2 linked regions of the Homo sapiens genome follow. The protein of the gene in region 1 interacts with the protein of each later gene in a pairwise test. Each region holds a gene or a part of one and is shown in the gene's direction. Other genes may lie near its edges.

The links.
Region 2: the proteins of SPART (region 1) and GPR35 interact in a two-hybrid assay, tested with the Homo sapiens proteins (one large-scale study listed by BioGRID and IntAct).

What each region holds. Positions count from the first base shown.
Region 1 is NC_000013.11:36,301,390-36,305,217, reverse strand, and holds the end of SPART (spartin), read left to right. Parts: intron 1-585; coding exon 586-853; 3' UTR 854-3,580; downstream 3,581-3,828. UniProt on the Homo sapiens protein: Lipophagy receptor that plays an important role in lipid droplet (LD) turnover in motor neurons.
Region 2 is NC_000002.12:240,630,794-240,633,711, forward strand, and holds the end of GPR35 (G-protein coupled receptor 35), read left to right. Parts: coding exon 1-89; 3' UTR 90-2,366; downstream 2,367-2,918. UniProt on the Homo sapiens protein: G-protein coupled receptor that binds to several ligands including the tryptophan metabolite kynurenic acid (KYNA), lysophosphatidic acid (LPA) or 5-hydroxyindoleacetic acid (5-HIAA) with high affinity, leading to rapid and transient activation of numerous intracellular signaling pathways.

The sequences.
Region 1 (3,828 bases):
CAAGCAGAGAGCAGCCAGTACAAAGGTCCTAAGGCCTTTGAGTGCTTGGTGGGCTCAAGGAACAGCAAGGAGGCCAGTGAGTGTGCAGTAGAGTGGGATGCAGGGGAGAATGCCATAGAATCTCTGTTTAAAGATTAACTCAAATTCCCATAATTAAAAGACATAGCCAAAGTCTGGTTAAGGTAGAACTTGAAACTACTTACGTGACTCTAGATTAGTTGCTTCTGTGAATATTTTCCCTCATATTTCTAGAAAGGGAGGATTAAAAAAAGAAATAATGACTGATTAATGACCTGTATTATAATTTACACTTTTATTTTTACTTGACAGTCTTTATTACATCATTCTCAGCTAGTCTGAGTTTATTTTCACACACTGTTTTTACTAAAGGAGAAAATACTGCTTTGTCACAGAGTGTGATTTCATTCTCTACTGTGTTTTAAGTTATTAATTAAATTGAAACCTAAGCTTTAATTTTGCTTTCAGGGGTAACACAGTAATCATTTGACTTATTTAATACTAATTCAGAAGACCTTATTTTATATTTATTGTTTCATTGTATGTCCTCTAATCTTTCTTTTAAAGATACGGATATAATGCAGGAGAAGCTACCCACCATGCGGTGGATTCTGCGGTCAATGTTGGCGTAACTGCCTACAATATTAACAACATTGGTATCAAAGCAATGGTGAAGAAAACTGCAACACAAACAGGACACACTCTCCTTGAGGACTATCAGATAGTTGATAATTCTCAGAGGGAAAATCAAGAAGGAGCAGCAAATGTCAACGTGAGAGGGGAGAAGGATGAGCAGACGAAGGAAGTAAAGGAGGCAAAGAAGAAAGATAAATGATGAAGTGCTGGGAATCACTTATACCAAAGCCTTATGAAATGGATGAAATTTTGTTAAATAGGCAAATGTGGAATTCCTCACAGATTAACCAGTATTTTTTAAATGTATTCATTCCTACAAATTAACTTTCATAAATTTTATGGCATGTCTTCTATTTAAAAGGAAAAGAATAAGTATTCTTGCATCTGGCCTTAGAAATGTGAAGTTATATTCTCAAGTTTATTTTTTTCCAAGTGTAGCTAAAATATTTTTGCAGGTAAAATAAAGCTGATAGTACATGTGTTGTTCAAACCTTGTTAAACCTAATATTGAACTATTTTTATATCTGCTGTCTTTCAGAAGGCAAATAGGAAACTATATATTTGCTTAAAAATTGGCATTTAGTAACCTTAATTCTTTTTATAGAAGGAATGACTTAAAGTATTGTCCCCTCTTTTTGCACTAATTGTGGATTTTTTTAGATGCTTCTCAAAATTTTCAGTGTGTAAGCTAAACAAAAACTAAAACTAAGAATTCTCAAAAAAACTTGTTCAAAACAGGGAAAGACTGATGAAAAGTAAAATGGACTACTTTTGTAACTTACCTGTTTGTTAGGAAATGGAATGGTCTCTTTGATTTAAAATAAATAAAAATAGATTATTACGTCTTTTGTATTGAGACTGTATTGTTATGAGCCTAGGAAATTTGGGAACATGATTGTATTGTATTAAAATTCGAAGTGATTATTATCAGCTTAATTGGATTAAAAAAGTACTTCAAGAAATTATTTTATCATATCTGCTTCTGTTTTTCCAAAAGGTTAAAACTTGTAAAAAAAATATATATAAACAATTGAGTTTACTAATGGTAAACATTTTTATTCTGGGATTCGGTCATTGGAATTTATATTAAAAGACAAGTTATTAAAAAGGAAAGGTTCTATTCATAATCAGGGTAAAGAATATGAAAACCTTAGACGTAATCCATGGTGGATAGGCATTATGGTTTCCACTTTGGCAGAAGGCAGACTATTCACAGCCCTATTTACTTACATAGGCTAAAAAACTATGTAACTAAATACCTAATGGTATTTAATTTTTGTTTATTGAATTTAAGAGATTGGTATTAGTTTTCATAGCTGTAGTCCATTCTAATAATTTCTGATCTTCTAGTGGCTACTTAATTAGACATTATTTGAAGCTGTCTGAAGAATGCACTTTATGAATTAAAAAACTGAATTGCCTGACCTCGTTATCACATGAGCTTATATTTTGGGAACACATAGAACTGATGGAGGCTTTTCCTAAGGCCAAGGATAATGTACTAGTTGTTAAAATGGAAATAAAAGTGAAGTGGTAAATAGCTTACAGACAGTCTATGCTTTGTTTAAGAAATGGAATGGCACTTCATATATTCTCATTTGTGGGAGCTAAAAATTACAATAATCAAACTTAAGGAGATAGAGAGTAGAATGATGGTTACCAGAGGCTGGGAGGCATTGAAGGGATGGGGAGGGAAGTGAGGTTGATTAATGGGTACGAAAATATAGTTAGAACGAATTTGTTGTAGTATTTGATAGCCCAACAGGGTGACTACAGTCAACAATAACTTTATACATTTAAAAATAAAAGAGTGTAATTGGGACGTTTGTAACACAAATGAATGCTTGAAGCAGTAGATACACCCTGATGTAATTATTATAAATCGCATACCTGTATCAAAATATCTCATGTATCCCATAAATATATACACCTACCATGTACCCATAAAAATTTAAAAAGAAATGGAATGGCAAATAATGGAACATAAACTTTAAACAGTTAGCTTTGACCAGAGGTCAGCAAATATCCTCCATGGGCTAAATCCAGATGTCCACCTGTTTTCATAAATAACGTTTTATTGGAGCATAGCTGTACCCATTTGTTTACATATTGGCTATGGCTGCTGTCTAGTTCAACGTGAGAGTTGAATAGTTGCATCAGAGAGTATATGGTCCACAAGCCTAACTTATTCACTCTCTGGCCCTTTGCAGAAAAAGTGTGCTGCCTTAGTCTATAGAAAATGGACTTTTCCCACCATTCACTGACTCATTAGGAGATAGGCATCTTCTAAAGATTTTTTTTATATTGTGTAATGATTGATATATAGATAAAATTATATATTACTTGTAAGGTATGATGAATAACAACACTTAAAAACTCATCACACCTAAAGACATGGAAAGCTGCCAATTACCTATATGTATGTTCTTCCTATTTTCTTACCTCTTTCCCCATGTCATTTTTTATTGTTCCTTGCCATTTTTTAATCACACATGTATGTTCTCCAAACATACTGTTTCATTTTTTGAAGCTTTCTACATATAGTGTCTGAATGTGAAGTCTTACTCAACTTGCTTTTTTGAGTTTATGTTTAAAATTCATTCTTGCGCTTATATGCATGGATGGTTTACTTGCTCTATAGTATTCTGTGTGAGTATACCACAATTTAAGTGTTCATTTTCCTATCAGTTGACATTTGTTTTTAGTTTTTGTTGGTAGAAACAGTACACTCAAAACATCCTTGACTGTCCCCTGGTACACATATGCAAGAGACTTTATGCGTAAGAGTGGAGTTGTTGGCTTGTCAAGTTTTGCAAAATAATGCCAGGTATTTTCCAAAATGATGATATTCTCTTGAGTATTACTTCCCTTTGCAATGTTTTTATTGTTAATGTAGCATATATAAAAAAGTATCTCATAATTTTAATTTGTGTTTTCTTGACCTCCTTTCCTGACCTTAGATCAGTAATTTTTCATGTTCATTTGCCATTCATTTGCCTGTGCTGTAAAATTTGCGTGTTGTCACTGCTGACAATTTTGCTTCTCATGTTTAGGTGTTTACTGAGAATTGTGTATATGTGTGCAAGAGGTAAGGTATCTAATTCCTCCCCTCCTCCCCCACCCCGTAGATAATCAGTTATTTAACCCCCATTTATTGAATAGTTCTTTTCTTCA
Region 2 (2,918 bases), on another chromosome or scaffold:
AGGAGTTCCAGGAGGCGTCTGCACTGGCCGTGGCTCCCAGTGCTAAGGCCCACAAAAGCCAGGACTCTCTGTGCGTGACCCTCGCCTAAGAGGCGTGCTGTGGGCGCTGTGGGCCAGGTCTCGGGGGCTCCGGGAGGTGCTGCCTGCCAGGGGAAGCTGGAACCAGTAGCAAGGAGCCCGAGATCAGCCCTGAACTCACTGTGTATTCTCTTGGAGCCTTGGGTGGGCAGGGACGGCCCAGGTACCTGCTCTCTTGGGAAGAGAGAGGGACAGGGACAAGGGCAAGAGGACTGAGGCCAGAGCAAGGCCAATGTCAGAGACCCCCGGGATGGGGCCTCACACTTGCCACCCCCAGAACCAGCTCACCTGGCCAGAGTGGGTTCCTGCTGGCCAGGGTGCAGCCTTGATGACACCTGCCGCTGCCCCTCGGGGCTGGAATAAAACTCCCCACCCAGAGTCAGTCCTAGTGGGGCCCTCTGTGTTTCGCACTCGTGTGGTGGGAGGCAGGGAGGGAGCGCGTGGCTCAGAGGGCTGGCGGACATCTTCCAGGGACCCTTCGGGGCTCTTCACTTTGAGGTCCCCCTTGGACCCTTTCACCCCTTCCCACCCCCACCCACCTGGAGCGTGAGCAGGGGCTGTTGGAAGCTCCTGGCAGGACCACAGTAGAGGCCCCCAGCCCAGGTTTCCTTGCTCAAGACAGGGCTGGGAGCAGCTGATCTCCATGTAGGGGCTGCACAGCGGTGCAAGGGGGGGTGACCAAGGTCAAGCAGGTGAGGGTGGGTTGGGGTGGGTGGCAGTGAAGGGGGTGGCCAGGGTCTGTCAAGGAACCCAGCCCTCTTCTCCTTCCTTCAGGGAAAGGCTGGAAACCATGTCTGGCAGGGGCAGGGGTTGGGTGCCCACTCAGGTAAAGGCACGATGTCCTGCTGGTTTCTGCCTCTCCTGTACTCCTGCATGGAGGGCATCTCGAAACCCAAGCTGGAAGGACAGGGCACTCCAGAGACCTCCTGTGAGTGTGGGCCAGCACGGCCTGGGCTCAAACCCCATCCTGTCATCCCATATTGCATGTCCACAGGCACCGCCCCACCCTGTTCCATGTTCCACAGGACTGGAGAGAGATGGCAGTCATGTTCTGGCAGGGACATGGCACAAGCATGCGGCTGATGGCATCTCACAGGACCCAGGCTCCGGAGGGCCCATGCCCAGGAGAGCCCCATAAGGGCTCTGTGCCTAAAAGGGTGCATGCCCAGGTGGGCCCATGCCCAGGAAGGTCCATGCCCAGGATGGTCCATGAGCAGGAGGGCCTCATTCCCAGGAGGGTCCCGTGCCCAGGAGGGCTCTATGCCCAAAAGGGTCCCATGTCCGGGAGGGTCCATACGCAAGGGTGTCCATGCCTGGTTGGGGGGGGTCTATGTCCAGGAGGGTCCCATGCCTGGAAGGGTCCATGCTCAGGAGGGTTCATGCCCAGGAGAGTTTATGCCCTGGAGGGCCCCATGCCCGGGAGAGTCACGTGCACAGAGGGCCCTGTGCTCAGGAGGATACATGTCCAGGAGTGTCCCTGTCCAGGAGGCTCCATGCCCAGGAGGCTCCATGTCAAGAAAGATTCATGCCTAGGAGGGTTCATGCCCAGGAGTGTCCCTGCCTAGGAAGATCCATTACCAGAAGGGCCCATGTCAAGGAGCGTTCATGCCCAGGAAGGTCCAGCCCAGGAGGGTCCATGTCAAGGAGGTTCCATGCCCAGGAGGGTCCATGCTGAGGTGGGTCCATGCCCAGGAGGGTTCATGTCCAGAAAGGTCCATGCCTAGGAGGGCCCATACACAACAGAGCCCTGTGCCCAGGAAGGACCATGTCAAGGAGAACCCCATGCCCATGAGGGTCCATGCCCAGTAAGGGCCATGCCCATGAGATCCTCATGCCCAGGAAGGCCCATGCCCAGGAGGGTCCATGCCCAGGCCAGTTCATGCACAGGAGGGCCCCATGCCTAAAAGTGTCCATGCCCAGGAAGGTCCATGTCCAGAAGAGTCCATACCCAGGAGGGCTGATATGGTTAGGCTTTGTGTCTCCACCCAAATCTCATCTTGAATTGTAATCCCTATAATAACCATAGTCCCCATGTGTCAAGGGAGAGACCAGGTGGAGGCAATTGGATCATGGGGGCTGTTTCCCACATGCTGTTCTCATGATAGTGAGTGAGTTCTCATGAGATCTGATGGTTTTATAAGGGGCTCTTCCCTTCACTTCTCCTTCCTACTGTCTTATGAAGAAGGTTCCTTGCTTCCCCTTCACCTTCTGCCATGATTGTAAGTTTCCTGAGGCCTCCCTAGCCATGCTGAAGTGTGAGTCAATTAAACCTCTTTCCTTTAAAATTACCCAGTCTTGGGCAGTTCTTTATAACAGTATGAAAACAGACGAATGCAGTAAATTGGTACCACAGAGAGTGGGGTGCTGCTGTAAAGATACCCAAAAATGTCGAAGCAACTTTGGAACCGGGTAATAGTCAGAGGTTGGAACAGTTTGGAGGGCTCAGAAGAAGACAGAAAGATGTGGGAAAGTATGGAACTTCCTAGAGACTTGTTGAATGGCTTTGATCAAAATGCTGATAGGGATATGGACAATGAATTCCAGGTTGAGGTGGTCTCAGATGGAGATGAGGAATTTGCTGGAAACTGGAATAAAGGTGATTCTTGCTATGCTTTAGCAAAGAGATTGGCAGCATTTTGCCCCTGCCTTAGAGATCTGTGGAACTTTGAATGTGAGAGAGATGATTTAGGGTATCTGGCAGAAGAAATTTCTAAGCAGCAAAGCATTCAAGAGTGCTCTTAAAAGCATTCAATTTTATGCATTCACAAAGAGATGATTTGGAATTGGAACTCACATTTAAAAGGGAAGCAGAGCATAAAAGTTTAGAAAATTTGCATCCT